Regions from separate parts of the Homo sapiens genome. Here regions 1, 2 and 3 are each linked to region 4. The links come from fine-mapping of genetic effects on gene expression. A gene starts in region 4. Each other region holds a variant in brackets. All regions are shown on one strand. Distances are between the middles of the regions.

Region 1 (5,155 bases), 170 kb before region 4:
CCTCCCAGGTTCCAGCAATTCTGCCTCAGCTTCCCGAGTAGCTGGGATTACAGGCCTGCACTGCCACACCCTGCTAGTTTTTGTATTTTTAGTAGAGACGGGGTTTTGCCATGTTGGCCAGGATGGCCTCGAACTTCTGACCTCAGGTGATCCTCCCACCTCGGCCTCCCAAAGTGCTGGGATTACAGTCGTGAGCCACCACGCCTGGCCTGAAGTGTTTTTATTATATCGACTGTATGCCTATTTTCTCTTTCTTCACTTACCTTTATTATCACCTTCCTTCACTTTCTGTTTTTATTCTAACTCATTAAGTTTCATGTATGCCTCATTAATATTCAGGTTTTCTTCATTTCTAATATAAGTGTTTAATGCTATGAACTTCCCTGTAAATACTGCTCTGGTGGTATTATCATGTTTTGATGTGTAATATTTTCATTAATGTTCAATTATAAATATTTTCTAATTTCTATTATAAGTTTTTTAACCCGTGAGTTGTTCAGTGTTCCCTTTTCTAACTTCCAAAATAATGGGAGTTTATAATTTCTTTTCATTGTGGTTGTTGATTTCTAACTTACTTGCATTATGGTTAAATAACATGGCCTGTATAATAACACTCCTTTTGAAATTGTTATGGCTTGCTTCATCACTTTTCTCATGATAAATTTTCATAAATGTTCCACATGTGCTTGAAAAGAACAATGGGCCCTTTCAGAGAGTGGAGGGCGGGGGGCGGGAAAGGATCAGGAAAAATAATTAATGGGTACTAAGGTTAATACCTGGATGATAAAATAATCTGTACAACAAACTCCCATGACACCAGTTTAACTGTGTAACAAACTGACATGGTTTGACTGTGTCCCCACCCAAATCTCATCTTGAATTGTAACTTCCACAGTTTCCACGTGTCATGGGAGGAACCCAATGGGAAGCAATTCAATAATGGGAGCGGGTCTTTCCTGAGCTGTTCTCGTGTTAGTGAATAAGTCTCACAAGATCTGCTGGTTTTAAAAATGGGAGTTTCCCTACACAGGCTCTCTTTTTGCCTACTGCCATCCATGTAAGATATGACTTGCTACTCCTTGCCTTCTGCCATGATTGTGAGGCCTCCCCAGCCATGTGGAACTGTAAGTCCCATTAAACCTTTCTTTTCTAAGTTGCCCAGTCTTGGGTATGTATTTATCAGCAGTGTGAAAACAGACTAATACAGTAAATTGGTACCAGTAGAGTAGGGCGCTGCTGAAAACATACCCAAAAATATGGAAGAGACTTTGGAACTGGGTAACAGGCAGAGGTTGGAACAGTTTGGAGGGCTCAGAAGAAGACAGGAAAATGTGGGAAAGTTTGGAACTTCCTAGAGACATATCGAATGGCTTTGAACAAAATGCTGATAGTGATATGGACAATGAAATCCAGGCTGAGGTTGTCTCAGATGAAGATGAGGAACTTGTTGGGAACTGGAGTAAAAGTGACTCTTGCTATGTTTTAGCAAAGAGACTGGTGGCGTTTTGCCCCTGCCCTAGAGATTTGTGGAACTTTGAACTTCAGAGAGATGATTTAGGGTATCTGGCAGAAAAAATGTCAGCATTGAAGAAGTGACTTGGGTGCTGTTAAAAGCATTCAGTTTAAAAGGGAAACAGAGCATAAAAGTTTGGAAAATTTGAAGCCTGACAATGTGATAGAAAAGAAAATCCCATTTTCTGAGGAGAAATTCAAGCCTGCTGCAGAAATTTGCATGAGTAATGAGGAGCCGAATGTTAATCCCCAAAACAATGGGGAAAATGTTTCCAGGGCATGTCAGAGGTCTTCACAACAGCCCCTCCCATCACAGGCATGGAGGCTTAGAAAGAAAACATGGTTTCATGAGCCGGGCCCAGGGTCCTGGTGCTGTGTGCAGCCTAGGGACTTGGTGCCCTGCATCCCAGCCACTCCAGCTGTGACTAAAAGGATCCAAGGTACAGCTTGGGCCATGGCTTCAGAGGGTGCAAGTCCCAAGCCTTGGCAGCTTCCACGTGGTGTTGAGCCTGTGGGTGCACAGAAGTCAACAAT[T/G]GAGGTTTGGGAACCTCCACCTAGATTTCAGAGGATGTATAGAAACGCCTGGATGTCCAAGTGGAAGTTTACTGTAGGGGCAGGGCCCTCATGGAGAACCTCTGCTAGGTCAATACAGAAGGGAAATGTGGGGTTGGAGCCCCCACACACAGTCCCTACTGGGGCACCACCTAGTGGAGCTGTGATAAGAGGTCCACCGTCCTCCAGACCCCAGAATGGTAGATCCACTGATAGCCTGCACCATGGGCTTGAAAAAGCCACAGACACTCAATGCCAGCCTGTGAAAGCAGCCAGGAGGGAGGCGTTACCCTGCAAAGCCACAGGAGTGGAGCTGCCCAAGACCATAGGAACCCACCTTTTGCATCAGCATGACCTGGATGTTAGACATGGAGTCAAAGGAGATCATTCTGGAGCTTTAAGATTTGACTGCCCTGCTGGATTTTGGACTTGCATGGGGCCTGTAGTCCCTTTGGTTTGGCCGATTTCTCCCATTTGGAATGGTTGTATTTACCCAATGCCTGTACTCCCATTGTATCTAGGAAGTAACTAATTTGCTTTTGATTTTACAGGCTCATAGGTGGAAGGGACTTGCCTTGTCTCAGATGAGACATTGGACTGTGGACTTCTGAATTAATGCTGAAATGAGTTAAGACTCTGGGGGACTGTTGGGAAGGCATGACTGGTTTTGAAATGTGAGGACTTGAGATTTAGGAGAAGCCAGGGGCAGAATGATATGGTTTGCGTCCCCAACCAAATCTCTTGTTGAATTGTAACTCCCACAATTCCCATGTGTTGTGGGAGGAACCCAGTGTGAGGTGATTGAATTATATGGGCGGGTCTTTCCTGCTCTGTTCTCGTGATAGTGAATAAGTCTCACGAGAGCTGATGGTTTTAAAAACGGAAGTTTCCCTACACAAGCTCTCTTTTTGCCTGCTGCTATTCATGTAAGATGCAGCTTGCTCCTCCTTGCCTTCCACCATGATTGTGAGGCCTCCCCAGCCATGTGAAACTGTAAGTCCCATTAAACCTCTTTCTTTTGTAGATTGCCCAGTCTTGGGTATGTCTTTATCAGCAGCATGAAAACAGACTAAATACACAAACCTGCACATGTACCCTGAACTTAAAAAACAAAAAAGAAAAGAATGTGTTCTCTATTTGTGTGTAAAAGTCTATTAGGGCAAACTTCATCTTTGTGTTGTTCAAATACTCTAAATTTTTGTTAATTTTTTAATCGCACAGATTAATAAGAGAAGAAAATTAAAATCTATTTTGACTGTGAATTTGTAAGTTTTTTCTTATAGTTCTGGCAATTTTTGCTTTACATATTTTAATGTTATTTTTATTAGGTTTATTTTGGTTTAGAATTGTTACATCTTCCTAGTGAAGAATGTCCTATCATTATGTAATGGAACTGTAAGTCTGAAGTTATCCTTTTTTCCTTAAATACTATTTTTCTTCTATTAATATCACCACATCATTTATGTTCTTTGGCTTAGTATTTGCCTGGTATATATCTTTCTAGCCTTTTACATTCAGCTTTTATGTATGCTTATATTTTAGTTATGTCTCTTGTAAAAAGCATATAAACTGAATTTTGCTTATTTAAAAAATAACTCCAAAAATCCTTGTCTTTTACCAGAAATTTTAGTTACTTTACATTTATTGTGACTGTTGGCATATTTTGATTTATTTTTGTTATCTTATTTTGTACTGTACACATTTGTCCCATTTTTTTCTCTTTTTCTTATTTGGTTTCTCTTTCCTTGTCATTTTTTTGGTGGAGGGAGGGTGATTGATTTGTTTTTCTCACTCAATTTTTTACCTCTGTTATTATAGTAGCTACCCTAGAAAGTTCAACAAGTATGTTTAATAGTGTCTAAAGCTAATTAGTATCCTTACCCCTTTTCTGAAAAATTCATGGATTTTTAAATACTTAACTCTGATTACACCTCCCAACTTGCAAGTTACTGGGATCTACTTTTTATCCTATTTTTCCTTTAGCCAAAAAATAGACATTATGTCTTATTTTATACAATCATTGCATATTTAGATATGACCATACATGTTCACCAATTTCTTGCCTCTTAATTCCTCTTTGTATATCATATCTGAGATCTGGGATCACGTCTGAGATCACATTCCTTCTATAGGAAGTATATTATTTTAGAATTTCCTTAAGTGAAGATTTGCTGGTTTCAACTTCTTCATTTTTTTGTCTAAAAATGACTTTATTTTGGCCTCCCATTTAAAAGATATTTTTGCTGACTATTGTATACTCAGTATTGTGTATAAAACTGTATTTTAGACTGTTATTTTCTTTCAACAATTTTTCTATTATCTTCTGGTTTTTATTCCCCTTGCAAGGGTAATTGTTTTGTAGGTAATTCATCTTTTTCTGGCTGCTTTTGTAATCTTTTCTTTGTCTTTGGTGTTCTGCATTTTTCCAATGATATGTCTAGGGGTAAATTTCTTATCCTGCTTGAAATTCAGAGCATCCTAGTTCTAAAGTTTACTGTCTTTCAACAATTCTGGAGAATTCTCAGCTATGATTTTTCTATCTTCTCTTCTGAAACTCTGATTAGAGATTACTCATCTTCCATGTTGCTTAACTTTCCTTTCATACTTTCTGTTGTCTTTTCTCTCTGGGATACATTCTAGGTAATTACTTCGGATCTATCATCTAGTTCATAATTCTCTCTTCAGCTGCTTCTAGTATATCACCCATCTACTCAAATTTTAGATTTCAATTGCTGTTTCTTATTCCTGAAAGTTTTATTTGGTTCTTTTATAATTCATCTTGGTTCTTCCTTTGATATTCTATTTTCTTTTTTCCCTTTTCAAAGTACTTATGTTCTTTTATCTCTTTCTTCGCTTATTTTCAAGTATCTCTTTCATTTCTATAAATGTATTAAACATACTTCCTTAATACTCTGTATCCATTAATTCTGATATGAAAGTCTTTTCTGGACTAATTCTGCTGTCTGTTTTTTCTGCTGGCTCTTGCTCATGGTGTAATTTTTCATGCCTATTTTTTGATTTTTGACTGTGAGCAGAAATTCATTGGAATTTTATCTGTGGGGATTCTTTGAGCCTAGGGTTGAAGTTGTGT
Region 2 (5,155 bases), 97 kb before region 4:
GCTACAGAGCACTTTAATTTCTAAATGAGCCTTACAAACTAACTACAGGGAGCCAGCACATATTCCTGCAAAGCCCCGTGTGCCTGGTTACTCACGGCCAGCTGTTGCTCCAGAGATTTCACTTGGTGCTGCAGAGTGTCAATCAGCTGGCTCTGCCTCTTGGTGGGGTTCCCACTTGTGTAGGTGAGTTGGGAAAGGCCATTGAGTGCCTGTTTTAATCTTTCCACATCATTAAGCAGTTCAGTTATCTTTAAAAAAATGTTGTAGGAGAAATATATTATTCACTTATCATGTACAATGAACATCTTTGTACAGAAATCATTCCTTTTTGGAGACAGAAGCTTTATCTTTATACACCAGAAAATTGAGGTATGAATATTGCCAAGACTGTTACCAAGGATGTATACAATATGTAATTTATAATTAAATCCCTCTCCAGAAATTATTTACAAAAGCAATACCAAATTAAGAATAAATATTACATATATCCTAAGATGTGAGTATAAACATAGTCTTACTTTTAGCTAATATATAAGCATCTACGAAGGCACATGAACTATCTTCCAGGTAACATATGGAACACAGGAAGGGAAGGGGGATTCCCAGCAACAAAGTGTGAAAAGTAAAAGGGTGTGGCCCGTGTAAGTCTAGGATTAACATATGTTCCTTTTTCCTTTCAAGAGTTGTATTATTTAAGACCACTTTGTTGTAGAGAGAAAAAAAACAAGGAGGCTTGTTTATAGGAATAGGAAGTGCCTAGAAACATAGCATTTTTCCACCCTGCTTTAAAGTCAGACAGAGTCAACTTGTATGAGCTTGGCTAATTTACTTTTCTGAGCCTTAGATTCCACATTGGTGAAAGGTGGACAATCTTTCAGAGTTAAGAAAATCAGGTTGGGCACAGTGGCTCACACCTATAGTCCCAACACTTTGGGAGGCTAAGGCAGGAAGATTGTTTAAACTCAGGAATTCAAGACCAGCCTGGGCAATAGAGCAAGATACCATCTCCTCCCCCACAAAATTTTTTATTGAAAAATAATAATAGAAAAAAAACAAAGAAAATGAAATGCAATTACATGCACCCGCTCAATAAATGGCAACAAGTAGATATTAATAATTAACTCTTATATATTACTATATATATTCATAGGTACCTTCTGAACAAGCTTAGAGCATTTAAATTCTCAATCACAGAGATGGTGTGCCAGAGGACAGTATGTACAAGTACTTTCCACTGGGGAGGGCAGTCTGTGTCTGTGTTTACTCCACTGTATCCCCAGCACATGACATGCAGAAGGCATTTAATCATTACATGTTGAATGGATAAAACTGCAGCCAATCTTTATATGTCATATCCATAGTAAAAACTTTATGCAACATCAGTGTCAAAAATATTGTTGAGTACCTATTCTGTAAATTGTACCATGAGAATTAAAGCTAAGATGGAAAGTTAAGTTATAAACCCTGCTCATAAAAACTGATTGGGAAGATCAACTACATAATTCTAACAAGGTAATATAAATGTTTTAAATGGATGGCAAAGCCACAGTAAAACATCCACCTTAGAGGAGGAACTGTTTACTATAGACTAGATTGGACAGTGAGGGCTTTAAGAAGGAGGATAACATGTTAATGAATGTATAGGATTCAACTCAGTAGAAAGGAGGGAAAGGACATTCTGGGTGAGGGGATGTAGACTTTCTAGTCTGTAGAAAGACATGAGCAACAGAACATAAAATGAATTGGAGGGCTCAGTTTACTACTATGGGTGAGTACCGAGATCAACTCTAGATGCTCCCCAGTGTTCTTGGTTTCTTGCAGCCCAGAAAGAGAGCTTCCCCACCACCCTCTTCCCCATCTTTCATATGCCACAAACCCACTGGCTTTTGACTCTTCATGTATGAGACAAGTGAGCCTTAAGTCTCCCCATCGTTCCTGAATTCTTGGCTAGAACAGCTAAAGAAACAGAAGGAAAAATGCTTTTGACTTTTGTGTTACTTCACTTTTTTTTTCAATTCGGAATTTTTGCACGCAAGTTGCTAAACTGGAAAGGGTCACTTTGTTAATACCTGTGTCTACTTTCCTGTGAGATTCTGTGGTAAAGAGCACTGCTCTGGGGTTTCCAACACATAGCCGTGCAGACTACTTTGTACCTACCTTATTATCTTTTGCTTCTATTTGTTTAGCAGATTCTTGTATTCTTCTTTGTAACTCTGTGATTGTTGTTAAGGACTTATCACATCGTTCCTTCTGATCCTTAATTTCTTGCTCAATGCTGAAATGCAGTAATTCCTTCTCATCTTTTGCAGATATTTCCTTCTTTTTGGCATGCAAAACTTCCTCACATACTTCCTCATACTTTCTATTCAGATTGGCCAATTTTTCATTTAAGCTAGAAATCTGTGTCTCCAAATCACTTTTTGTTGCTTTATATTTAGACAAGTCAACTACCTCTCTAGTCTCTAATTTTTTTAATGCTTGTTTAGTATTCTGAACCTCCGACTGAAGTTTGGAGACTTCTTCCATTTTGTTTTGGCTTTCTTCTTCCTTTTCTCTCAAGCTGGCTTTTATGATTCCAACTTCTTTCTCAAATGCTTCTTTAATCTGCAAATGCTCTGCCAGGGGTACAGAAGAGTTCTTTTGATTCTCCAACAATTGATGCAGTTTGGTCACTGTCTGCTGCTCTTTCTCGTAACACCTTTGCATACTCTTCAGTTCTTCCTTTAGATTTTCAATTGTGCCATTAAGAGATTTTTTCAGAGCCTCAACCTGTTCCAATGGAACATGTTGTTTTTGCAAAAGATTTTGCACTGCAAGTATCTCAGAAGTCTGTTTGGCATTTTCTTCTACTAGCTTCTCTTTCACATTCTTTACTTCCGTGTATTTCTGTGACAAGTCTTTTAACTGTTTGTTTAGCTCGTCTGTTTTTCTGCTTAATGCTCTTTCCATTTCATGAGACTTCTCAATGAGAACTGTCTTATCTCTCAAATCTTTCTGAAGGGTAAAAATCTCCTTCTTTAACTTGTCATTCTCTTGCTTGTTTTTCTTGACTTCTTCTTCACTGACACTATACTTTTGTGTCTGCTCTGATAACTGGTCTTTTAGTTCTTTCTCTGTTGCTTTAAATTTTCTCTCGCACTCCTCAAAGCTGACAATTGGGGC[G/A]TATTTTACCTTAATGCATTCTTGTATTGTGTCGAGCTCCTTCTTCTGGGCTTTAATTTCGGCATGCAGTGTCACAATCTCTTCTTGGCCTTTTCTGTAGTTGGCCAAGATTTCAGCATTACTATCCTGCACCTTTCTCATGCTCTGACTTAGCGAGCTCATCTTTGCCTCGTGCTCTGCCAGGCTGATGTACTCAGCTTTTATTTGGTTCTGAGTGTTTTCCAGGTTTCTTTTTAATATTTCATTCTTATCTTTTATTTTTACAAATTCCTGATTTATATCTTCAAATTTTTTCTTCACATCTAATAATTCTCTGTTAGTTTTGGCTAACGTGTCATTCAGTGTCATTTTAACCTCTTCATGGGTTTTAACTGGCACATACTGATTACTCATCATCTTCTTCAAGTTAGTGTTTTCAGATGTGAGAGCGTGTATTTTCTCCTGGTCTTCACCACATTTTTTCTTAAGTTCAGACAGCTGTTTCTTAAGTTCAACAATATTGGATTTCAGAGCTATTATCTCTTTTTCATGTTTCTCAGGAGGTACAAACACAGTTTCTAGGCGGCTTACATCCTTACTTAAGCTGTCATTTTCCAGTAGCAATTTCTCCATTTCCAACTTCTTTTCTGTATATTTTTGTGTTACATCTAAAAGCTTTCTATTAAGATCATCAATAATTGCATCATGTGACTTTTTCATGTCTTCACTTACTTTTAAAGGAACATAATGATTTTTCATTTCAATTGTTAAGTTATGTGCTTGCTCCTTGAGGAGCTTATTATCCAAATAAACTTTTTCAATTTCCTTTTGTAGTGTCTGATTTTTCAATGTTAACTCAGTGATCTTCTTCCCAAGTTCTCCTGATTTCTGTTCTAATCTGCTCTTAACCTGTTCATGTTCCTCTGGTTTGACGTGCTGAGCAAGCTTGGCCTTAACATTCTCAAGTTCTCTCTTTAACTGTCTAATTTCACTAAGTGATTTTTCATGTTCTCTTTCCATTTCTACTAATTTTTTTGCTTTCTCATTCACTTCATTTGATAATGAGCTCTTCATGTTTTCAAATTTTTCAGCTGGAATGGAAAGGGCCAACTTCGCTGACAATTCTTTTGCCTGGCCTTCCATCTCTGTGACCTTTCTTCCTTTCTTCTCTCGCTCCATTTCACACATACTAAGTTCCTTCTGTAATCGCTTATTTTCTTCTATCAGCTTGCCTTCATCCCTCTTAAACTCTTCTACTATCATCTCATTTTGTTTGATTTGGTTTCTTAATTTCCCCACTTCTGCTGAAGCACCTTCATATTTTACTTTCAAGTCTTTCAACTGATCCTTCAGTTCCTCGGTTAGTCTGTGATTCCCTGAGGCTGCTTCACTTGTTAAGTGTTCTTTAAGGGCAAGAAAATGGGTCTGCATTTGTTTAACTTTACCTTCTGACTCATACATCCTCTTCTGCACATCTTTTAATGCATCTTCTAATTGCTTTATCTGTTCATCTGAATCCTCCTTGACCCTTTCACATTCTAATGCTAAAGCTTTGCATTCTGCCACTTTGTGTGCCAGTTCATTTTGGAGCTTCAGTCGGTCTTGTTTTGCTGACTCACAGAAAGTTCGCATTGCTTCTAACTCTTTCTTTAAAATTTCATTTTCAGAGTATGACGTTTGACTGGGTAAAGATAGTTCCAGAGGTCTTAACATAGATCTGCTTTGCATATGGGCTGGTATACCTGGGGAAGTACACTGAAAAGAAAAAAAAAAAGACATCAATCACAAAAGCCTAAATGAGACATTTACTATACTTATTTGCCAAACTTAGAGAAAGTTAGCACATCATCAGGAATCAAAGGGTTTTCAGATTAGGCAGTAAGATGGAAAAAAAATCACAATGCTGATTTTTGTGGTAAGGAAACAGTTCTGGATATGATTTCCTTAATACATTCACAACATTTTGAGAGTTCTGTTCACGTAAGTCTATTTCTGGCAGAACAACGGACAATGG
Region 3 (5,155 bases), 140 kb before region 4:
CCAGAATCTACAAAGAACTTAAACAAATTTACAAGACAAAATCAAACAACCCCATCAAAAAGTGGGTGAAGGATATGAACAAATACTTCTCACAAGAAGACATTTATGCAGCCAACAGACACATGAAAAAATGCTCATCATCACTGCCCATCAGAGAAATGCAAATCAAAACCACAATGAGATACCATCTCCACCAGTTAGAATGGTGATCATTAAAAAGTCAGGAAACAACAGGTGCTAGAGAGGATGTGGAGAAATAGGAATGCTTTTACACTGTTGATGGGAGTATAAATTAGTTCAACCACTGTGGAAGTCAGTGTGGCGATTCCTCAAGGATCTACAACCAGAAATACCATTTGACCCAGCCATCCCATTACTGGGTATATACCCAAAGGATTATAGATCATGCTGCTATAAAGACACATGCACACGTATGTTTATTGCAGCATTATTCACAATAGCAAAGACTTGGAACCAACACAAATGTCCATCAGTGATAGACTGGATTAAGAAAATGTGGCACATATATACCATGGAATACTATGCAGCCGTAAAAAAGGATGAGTGCATGTCCTTTGTAGGGACATGGATGAAGCTGGAAACCATCATTCTGAGCAAACTATCACAAGGACAGAAAACCAAACACCACATGTTCTCACTCATAGGTTGGAACTGAACAATGAGAACACTTGGACACGGGGGGAACATTACACACCAGGACCTGTTGTGGGGTGAGGGAAGGGTGGAGGGATAACATTAGGAGAAATACCTAATGTAAATGATGAGTTACTGGGTGCAGCACACCAAGATGGCACATGTATACATATGTAACAAATCTGCATGTTGTGCACATGTACCCTAGAACTTAAAGCATAATAATAATAATAATAATAATAATAATATAAATAAATAAATCAGTTGTTGAAAAGATTACCCATTATCTAATGAATTATCTTGGCAACTTTCTCAAAAAGCAATTACTCATATATATATATGAGTTCACTTCTCAACTCTCTTCTGTTCCACTGCTCTATATGTCTATATACCATGCTGTTTTGTTTATTATAGCTGATAGTAAGTCTTGAAATCAGAGAGTTTAAGTCCTCCAACATTTTTCTTCTTTTAAAAATGTTTACCTGTGTAATGAACCTGCACATCCTGCACATGTACCCTGGAACTTAAAATAAAAGTTAATGAAAAAAATTGTATTTGTTATTTATGGTTCTTTGTCATTTCAAATTTTAAAAATCAATTGTCAGTGTCTGGTTTGAAAGCTTGCTTGGATTTACATTGCTTCATATATTAAACATCCCATTTTGGAGAGAATTGACATCGTAGCAATGTTGAGTCTTATGATCCATGAACATGGTATATATGCCTATTTATTTAGATCTTTAATTTCTCTCAGCAAAGTTCTTGAATTTTTACTGTACATATCTCTTGTATTTAATCCTAAGTTTTATGTTTTTGACATTGTATTAAATGAATGTTTTTAGGATATTTTCCACTGGTTTGCTGCTAGTATAAAATAACTATTAATTTTTGTATATTATACTTGTATCCTACAGGTTTGCTAAATTTGTTTTTTATTTCTAATAGCTCTTTCATAAATTCCTTGGAGTTTTCTACATAAACAGTCATATTACCTGCAAACACAGGCAGTTTTACTTCTATTTTTCAATCTGTATACCTTTTATTTATTGTCCTTGTCTTATTGCAATGGCTATAACCTCTAATACAATGTTAAATAGTAGCAGTGAGAGTTACATCCTTACCTTGTGCTCAGGCTGAGAGGTAAAGCATTCACTATTTCACTATCAAATCAACCATGGTGTTAATTGCAGGTTTTTCATATAGATGACCTATAGAAATGTGAGGAGGATCTCTTTTTTCCTACTTTACTGAGAGATTTTATTATTAATGGATTTTAAATGTTTTCACTTGCATTTTCCACATCTATCAAAATTATCATATTGTTTTTCTCCTTTCTTTATGTTGTTAATATGGTGAATTACATTGATTGATTTTCAAACATTAAGCCAACCTTGCATTTCTAGGATAAATCCCATGTGCTCATGGTATATTATCCTTTTTATATACTGTTGGATTCAATTTGCTAAAACTTTTTTTAGGAATTTTATGTCTATGTTCATGAGGAATATTGGTCTGAAATTTTATTTTATTTTATCTTTGGAATATCTTTCACAGATTTTGGTATTAGAGTTATGCTAACCTCAGATAATTAAATAATTGTCCTACTTTATTTATTTTCTTAAGGATTTTATGTAAAATTGGTATTATTTTATTTTATCCTTGAATTTTTATAGAATTTACCAATAAAGCTATTTGAGGCTGGAATTTTCTTTGTGAAGAGTTTTGTGTGTGTGTGTTTTGTTGTTGTTGTTCTTAAGAGACAAAGTCTTGTTCTGTCACCCAGGTTGGAGTACAGTGGCATGATCACT[G/A]CAGCCTTGAACTCTTAGGCTCAATCTTCCCACCTCACTTCCTGAGTACCTAGGACCATAAGTGTGTACCACCATGCTTGGCTAATTTTTTTAAATTTTTGTAGAGATGTGGTCTTGCAATGTTACTCAGTCTGGTCTCAAACTCCTTGCCTCAAGTGATCTCACCTCAGCCCCCCAAAGCAGGAAGTTGTTTAAAAAAAAAAATTAAATTATTTAATAGATATAGGCTACTCAGAGTTTCTGTTTCATCTTATGTCAGTTCTCATGAATTATATTTTCAATTTTGTCTATAGTGTTGAATTTGTTGGTATACAGCTATTTATAATATGCCCTTCTATCTTTTTAATATCTGTATCTGTATTAATTAATTAATTTTCATTTATTCCTGGTGTGGGTCCTTTGTCTCCCCTCTATGACCAGTCTAACCAGGGATTTACCAATTTCATTCATCTTTTCAAGGAAACAACTTTGGCCTTGTTAATTGTTTATATTACCTGATCTCTTCTCTACTGATTTTTGCTTTTGTCTTTATTGTTTTTTCCTTCCACTTATTTTTGGTTTACATTGCTCTTTTTTGTTTGTTTGTTTTCTCTTAGCTCTTTGGGCATTGATTTTTCAACACTTTTTTCTTTTCTTTTTTTGCGATGGAGTCTCACTGTGTTGCCAGGCTGGAATGCAGTGGTGCGATCTCGGCTCACTGCAACCGCCGCCTCTCGGGTTCAAGCAATTCTCTTGCCTCAGCCTCCCGAGTAGCTGGGACTACAGGCGCACACCACCACGCCCAGCCAATTTGTATTTTTAGTAGAGACGGGGTTTCACCATGTTGGCCAGGATGGTCTCGATCTCCTGACCTCGTGATCTACCTGCCTCGGCCCCCCAAAGTGCTGGGATTACAGGTGTAAGCCAGCACACCTAATAAAAGGATGTAAATCATTTTCCTCTAAACACTGATTTAGCCAAATCTCACAGATTTAGATGTTGTTATTTTCATTATCCTAATGTCTGAGATTTTTATTATTGTTATTATTATTATTATTTTCAGATGCAGTCTCACTCTGTCACCCAGGCTGGAGTGCAGTGGCACGATCTCGGCTCACTGCAACCTCCGCCTCCTGGATTCAAGCAGTTCTCCTGCATCAGCCTCCCGAGTAGCTGGGACTACAGGCACGTGCCACCAGGCCTGGCTAATTTTTGTATTTTTAGTAGAGATGGGGTTTCACCATGTTGGCCAGGCTGGTCTTGAACTCCTGACCTCAGGTGATCCACCCGCCTCGGCCTCCCAAAGTGCTGGGATTACAGGCATGAGCCACCGTGCCTGGCCTAAAATATTTTTTAATTTGGGGTAATTTCTTCTTTGACCTATGGGTTATAGAAAACCGTATTGTTGAATCTCCAAAATGTGCGTTTTTCATAGATGTCATAGTTGTTGGTTCTCATTTAATTCAATTTTGGTCAGAGAACATGCTCCAAAAAGCCCAAATTTTGAATTTACCTCTCTGGGTTTCTGTCATCCTCCAATATGCTTCTTTATCATATCAGCTCACTACAGCCTACATGTAGATCTTTTAAAAAAATATTTTGTCTGGTTTTCCTTATTGTGCTAATGGGGAGAATTAATCCAAATGATCAAGTCATTCATTATCAGAAGTCACTATATATGCTTTTCAAACATGTGTCAGACAAAACCAATTGTTTAACATAAAAGTTAAGTCATAAATCTTTTGGTGGAATTTTTCTGCCTGGGATAGATTGGCTCTTTCCTTAAAACATGAGTCAAATGAAGTTTGAGCCAAAGATATTTTCTCCCTGTCCTAGAACAAACTTCAAAATCAAGTTAGGCATTCTTTTTACAAGAATTTCCAAGAGATGCTCAAATTGAGGTCCTTTTTCACAATTGTTCTTCATTGCCTATTTAGTTTATAAGAATGTCTTTGACATTAATTGCTGAGGAAGGAGAAATCTCACTTCTTCCTCTTCTTCTTCCATTCCTTAGTCTCTGTTTTATCAACCTAAAAAACTAATTTTGGACTGCATTCCTTTTCAACAATTAGATATACTATTTTCTAGAACTTCTACAATGCTCTATCTAGTCCTACAGTTTTCCTCAAACCCCGATGTCATTGTTAGGAGGGAAAGATTATTCTCACTCGTTTATCATTCTATGTGGAGGGGCACCATTCTTTGTAACACTTCTGGCCTCACTCCAACTGGTGAGTTAGAAAAGAGGAACTGGGAATGTGCACTTCAGCTTCTTCTGTCCTCTCTCTCTGGAACAGGTTGCCCCAAAGAAGCACACGTTCTGTTATGCTCCTCCAAGAACAAAAATTCACAAGCTAATACTTTTGGGTGGGTATAATTATCAAAGTCTGATAGATTATTAAACCCAAATATCAGGTTCATCATTAATAAGGGAACTATTCTGCTGGCTCCCTTGAATCCAATAGATATGCCAATCAGTTCTCTTCCTGAAGTGATCCCAAAGGAAAAGAAAGCATTATATCAAAAAGAAACCAGATGGATGGATCACCTGAGGACAAGGGTTCAAGACCAGCCTGACCAATACGGAGAAATCCCATCTCTGCTAAAAATACAAAAATTAGCCAGGCATGGTGACGGGCGCCTGTAGTCCCAGCTACTCAGGAGGCTGAGACAGGAGAATTGCTTGAACCCGAGAGGCAGAGGTTGCAGTGAGC
Region 4 (5,155 bases):
AAAAAGGGTGGCCCAATCATACAATAAATACATATACATGTGACCAAATCTGGGATTATGGTTTATAGATTGAAAAGCAGAAAGGGTCTATTTCTCCTGTACATGTGTTTTATTCTATCAATGCTTGGTTTGGTTTTATTCATCACTACAGTTTTATTTTAAAATTTTACAGAATTCATTCTAAGTTTTATTCCTCATTACGCTTTTATTTTTAAATTGTACAGAACTTATTCTAATATTTAAACAGAAATGTTTGCTTTTTCTACATAAATAGGTTAATATCATGTTTATCTTTATTATGTCATTTTGAGAAAAATAGAACGCTCAATTGAGTGCTAAAGATTTAAGCTCAGAGATATGCACTTTATGTTCCAAATGTATAAAATGCAAACTATCATGCTGATAATACCTACTAAATACTCTGCATTTCTAGAAAACTGGATAAAATTAAGGCATATAAACCTCCAAGTGGGATTTACATCCTTAGTGCAAATCAAACACAACCAGGGAAAACAAAGCTAATAAATCTAGAAACTTGTATCTTCTATAAGGCTAAAAACACAACTTGCATTACAGAAGTAGAATCTTAACTGTAATGAACTCCAATATCACTAAATGACATTTCTGCCAGTTACTTTTTTTAAAAAAAAAAGTGAAACAAAGTAATCTCTGTTTTCCATGAGCTTATAAAACGACTTCATGCTTTATCAAAGAACATCAATTACGTCATCTGAATCTACTCTCTTTTTTTGAAATAGGAATTTAAGTCTAGGTAGTTCCTCCACAATTTCCTTTATGTCCAAGTAAAATAATCCTCGATATAGGTGGAGAGAAAGGCATAACTGAATTAACTCAAAAAAGCAGAAGCAGATTAATTAGTATTCTGATAAAAAGAATATAATCATTTGGTAAAATCTGCGTTGAATTGTAAAGGTTCATTTTAATTACCCCAACTAGGTAACTGTGCAGTTGGAGCATAACAACTCCTTTACGTTCGACTCTTCCAAGACTTTGTAAGTGGCACTTATTTTAATGATATAGAATTTTGATGATATCGCCATTCTTGTAACGTGACAAATTATCTAAATCACAACATCTGCGGTCAGGCTGTTTCTCAAGATTTCTGTTCTCCTGCCAACTAAAGAGGCCCCGACTACTCCTTGGCGCGCACACTGAGGCCGCGCTGCAGGTCAGCACCGAAAGAGCCCCGCACGGATCCCGCCCCACAGGTGCGATTTACACAACCCACATCACCACCACCCCTCCCAACTTCACCACCTCTAGGGTCACCACCCTGTGGGGTTTTGTCTTTACGACTAAGCCGATTCCCTCTGCCTCGCTGGGGAATCAAACTTCCCAGTGACAACGACAGCGGCCAGCACGGGACGTCCACCAGCCCGGCAGGGCTTGACGCTGTCTCAGACCCGGGGAAGGTCCGGAGTCCGGGCACGGTGGCGCGGGGTGCGCAGCCCTGCCCACCTGCCCTACCTGGTGCGAGCCCCGGCCCCGGGGACTGGGGAGCCAACACGGCCGAGCGGGCGTGGGCAGCAGGGCGAGCGCCGGGAGAGGAGAGCGACGAGGGGGGGTCAACGGAAAGAGCGGAGTAGGGGTGCCAATCGAGGAACTTTGGATTTAGGAGGAGGGGGCCAGAACCGCCCCACTGAGGTTTCTTCCAGAAGTTCGGAGGCTTGGGAGAAAGGGGTGGGGAAGAGACCCGTAGAGGCTCGGGTGCGGCGGCGGGGAGGATCCCCGGGGTCTCTGGGCTGACGGAGTCTCCGGCCTCAGGGAGGAGTCGCCAGGGCCGCCGAAGCCGAACTGGCAGAGGAAAAGCAGAGGAAGGCGGCGCGCGAACTCGCCAGCAAAGGAGGGCTGCGCTGCTCCCGGAGCGGAGCGCCTCGCAGCCCGGACCGCGGGACTCACCGCGCTGGCGGCGGCGGCGCCAGACGACGCGGGGCCGGGCACGTCCTGCCTCCTCAGGCGGGACTTGAGGCTCTTCATGGCTAACTCTTGCCTGGCCCCCGCGCGAACCTTAAAGGCTGCGGAGTGCCAGCGCGCAAGGAGTAGACGGCAGCGGCTGCAGCAGAGGCGGCGCGGGCTGTACCAGCCCCACCTGCCTGCCACCTGCGGGCCCCGGGCAGCAGACGTCGACAGGCCTGAGGCGGGGCTCCCCTCCCGTAGCCAATTGACCCGCTGCCCTGGCGGGGGCGTGGCAAACCGCGACCAATCGGAATGCGGGAATGGGGCGGGACTTCCCTTTTAAACTGAGTAACACCCTTCCTCTCCCAGCTGGAGGAAAAGTTTGGGAACTTTAGCCCGGGAAGGGGCGGAGGAGGTGGGCGGCCAGAGGCGTGGAGATGCGCGCAGGCCGGGCTCCAGGCCACCGGCGCCCGCCCACCCGGAGCTTAAGATCTAGAGAGAGCACGGGGTCCCGCCTTTGCCACCTCTCATCTTCCCGGACTCCCCTCCTCTTTCCACCCACGCGCTCTTTACCAAGTAAAGTTCCTTCCCTTCCGTCTGGTCTTAGAAATGACTCTTGGTTACCTGCACACAGAACAGCTTTCAGGAGCAACTTCTTTTCAGTCTCCTGTTTTACTACCAAATCCTGGTGCCTGGAAACCACCACACGCATCAAAAATTCCAGAAATAAACAGTCTCTAAGAAATAAGGTGCTGATTGTGCAGAAAAACGTACAGTTAAGAAAGACCTTGAAAGACGTTATAGTAAGTTACAGTACAAGTTACGTGCTCGTTTATTTGTTGAGTGAAGAATCCGCCGTATTGGAAGCAAAGGGACGGAATGGGGGCGGGGAGGGAGGAGAAGAGGTGCCATCAATTAAAAATGACTCCCACAGCCAGTGATTTAAGTTGTCAAAAAAAGTTACGCCCTTTTTTCTTCAAAAAGGTTTTTTGTTTTCTGTAGAAACACATTACATGTAAACGTATACGATGAAGTTAAATCATCTTACCTAGAAATCTGGGTTAGTAAAAATTATTTAAGAGGATGAAGAAACAGGAAGGTGCTCAGCACCCAATAATTTGCTGTTCGGGTGACATCTTCAAAAGTCTTCTTTGGAGTCATTTTTCCCCCCAGCAAAACGTTTATCGTAGCATGCATCCATTTGAAAAGACAAACGGTCCACATTTTCTGACTAACAAAGGACTCTTTTTTGTCTGAAAGGTCAGTTGCTCTCTTTAGAGTTTCTTTATAGTAACGCAAGGTTTTCTTCAAATACTGTAAGAAAGTTTTCAGAATTTCTTGGAGAGGCAGCATTCAAAGACTGTGTTAACCCTATACAACAAGTAAATAACAACTAACTACCCAAAAATATTATTAAATTTCATCTTGATTAGATCTTTGGAAGAAAATTTTCTTTGATTCCTCCCCCTTCCTCTAGATCTCCAGTCATTTAGTTCTTGTTGGCTCTTTAAAGTGTCTGTGTATGGTCAGTTACTCTGTTCTCACTGCCACTGCAGAGCCAAAATTACCTCATACCCGGACTATTATTACAGAAGCTTCCCAGCCAGTCTCCCAACCTTCAGTCTCTTAATTGTCCCATCACCAATAAATTATCAGCCATCATCAATAAGTCTTACAAAAATACTCCTCTTGCTCAAAAGCCTTCAGCAGCTAACGAATAAAATCTAATTCTTTGCATTTAAAGCTGTATAACGTGGACGCGACCCTGTTCTCTAGCCAACACCCCAAGCGAATTACTCTTCAGCCCATTCTCCAAACATGGGTCATGGCTTTCAACTTCCACATCTTTATGCATACTGATCCCTCCCCCAATAATCTTCTGTCTGTCTACATTCATCTCAGAAAATCCTACTCCCCCAAGAGTGATTGGTAGGGGATGTCGGGGGCTTCTGGAATACTGTACTATTCTCTGTGGGTGCTGGTTACATATCTAGTGTTTTCAGATTGTGAAAATTCAATGAGCCTGTACTGTATGCAATATATTCTCTTTTATGTGTGTGTTATGCTTTAACAAAAAGTTTGTTTTTAAGTGTATGTCCCTTCCAAGTGCCCTCCTCTCTATAGAACCTTCCCTGATCAAGTAACTGGAAGTGATCTCTCCATCCTCCAAATAGTTACAGCAATTATACCTCTCATATGATACTAACACATATGAGCTGAGCAAACCTTATTTCATTACTGGACTTCAATTTACTTAAAATTGGGGAATAACTGACATATATTTGAATTCCCTAGAATGCTTAGCATGTTATAGGTGTTTAATAAATATTTCTGAATGAATTGATGCATTCTTATTGACTACTATAGCAAATTATGGTTGTTTGTTCTATGTATTTATGTGACACAGGATTGGGATTCCCCCTATTGTGAACACAGATGGAATGATCTGAGGCTATGGTCCTGCTCAAATATTTGTGTCTCAATCAACTCCTTTCTCTGGGCTTAAGATAAGCACCCATTTACCATCTAGTCCTCTGACTGAATCTTAAATGTTAATTGCTTACAAGAGCACTGTCTCAGTAATTGGCTCTTGAGTTATTAATTGCAGTGTTATGTTGTACTGGTTGTCTCCTGTAACATCCAAGTTATCATAGTCCTGGTGACTGGCCTCCTTTTCTGTTGTTACTGGATAAAGCAAAGGAAACAGACAGAACCACAAGTATAGCTTGCATCAGGTTCCAAAAATGTTGGGCAAGTTATTTTTATGAACTGTCTGGATGATGTCCCCATGGTGTCTGTGTCCAGTGGCCTTTATGGATTTTTCCAGCCTAGAAACTTGATAGCTGATGTCTGCTTATTCCCATTTGAGAGCAGCTAAGTAAATAGCACTGGTCTGAATATTCAGTAAAGCTTTTTTACATTGATCTGGAAGCTGCCTATATGAAGTAAAGTCACTATTATTAGCATTCAACCAGACAGGTTGGGTTTTATTTTGTTAACTCTTATCACTATTATTTATTTTTATCTTCCCTTCAGAGCAAAGGGCACTTATCAAACCTAGATGACCTTTTGTTTGTTATCACACTGAGCCTATATAAAATATTTTTTTGTTTTACTTCTTTTTTTTTTCCAATATTTATTTATTTACAATATATACCAGGAAGGGTAATGCATTTTTTAAAATTACTTTACTAGATTATATATACACATGGTAATCTCAAATAATACAAATGGAGCA

Alleles and levels. Alleles are on the strand shown, and positions count from the first base shown. SD is a standard deviation of normalised expression in the study named. Not every link is listed here.
For the expression in testis of the gene that starts at base 2,149 in region 4, allele G in region 1 goes with a lower level than allele T (moderate effect, 0.48 SD a copy in GTEx).

The links. PIP is the estimated chance that this variant, and not a neighbour inherited with it, causes the effect. A credible set is the group of variants that fine-mapping cannot tell apart.
Region 1: its variant is the best candidate, but not a certain one, in a credible set for the expression of UACA in testis (GTEx, PIP 0.58).
Region 2: its variant is the best candidate, but not a certain one, in a credible set for the expression of UACA in whole blood (INTERVAL, PIP 0.87).
Region 3: its variant is the best candidate, but not a certain one, in a credible set for the expression of UACA in blood mononuclear cells (TOPMed, PIP 0.68).

Annotation. Positions count from the first base shown.
Region 1 is chr15:70,590,308-70,595,462 of GRCh38, forward strand. No RefSeq gene overlaps it. Among named protein-coding and RNA genes, the nearest start is that of LINC02204, 6.3 kb to the left of the region's middle. The variant T/G (reference allele first, on the strand shown) is at 2,047.
Region 2 is chr15:70,664,567-70,669,721 of GRCh38, forward strand. UACA (uveal autoantigen with coiled-coil domains and ankyrin repeats) reads right to left here. Exons shown (of 19, transcript NM_018003.4): 16 at 2,158-4,896; 17 at 96-248. Among named protein-coding and RNA genes, the nearest start is that of SALRNA2, 32 kb to the left of the region's middle. The variant G/A (reference allele first, on the strand shown) is at 3,163.
Region 3 is chr15:70,620,973-70,626,127 of GRCh38, forward strand. No RefSeq gene overlaps it. Among named protein-coding and RNA genes, the nearest start is that of SALRNA3, 8.0 kb to the left of the region's middle. The variant G/A (reference allele first, on the strand shown) is at 2,463.
Region 4 is chr15:70,761,410-70,766,564 of GRCh38, forward strand. UACA (uveal autoantigen with coiled-coil domains and ankyrin repeats) reads right to left here and starts at 2,149. Exons shown (of 19, transcript NM_018003.4): 1 at 1,921-2,149. The coding sequence starts at 1,998. RefSeq lists a silencer at 1,914-2,323.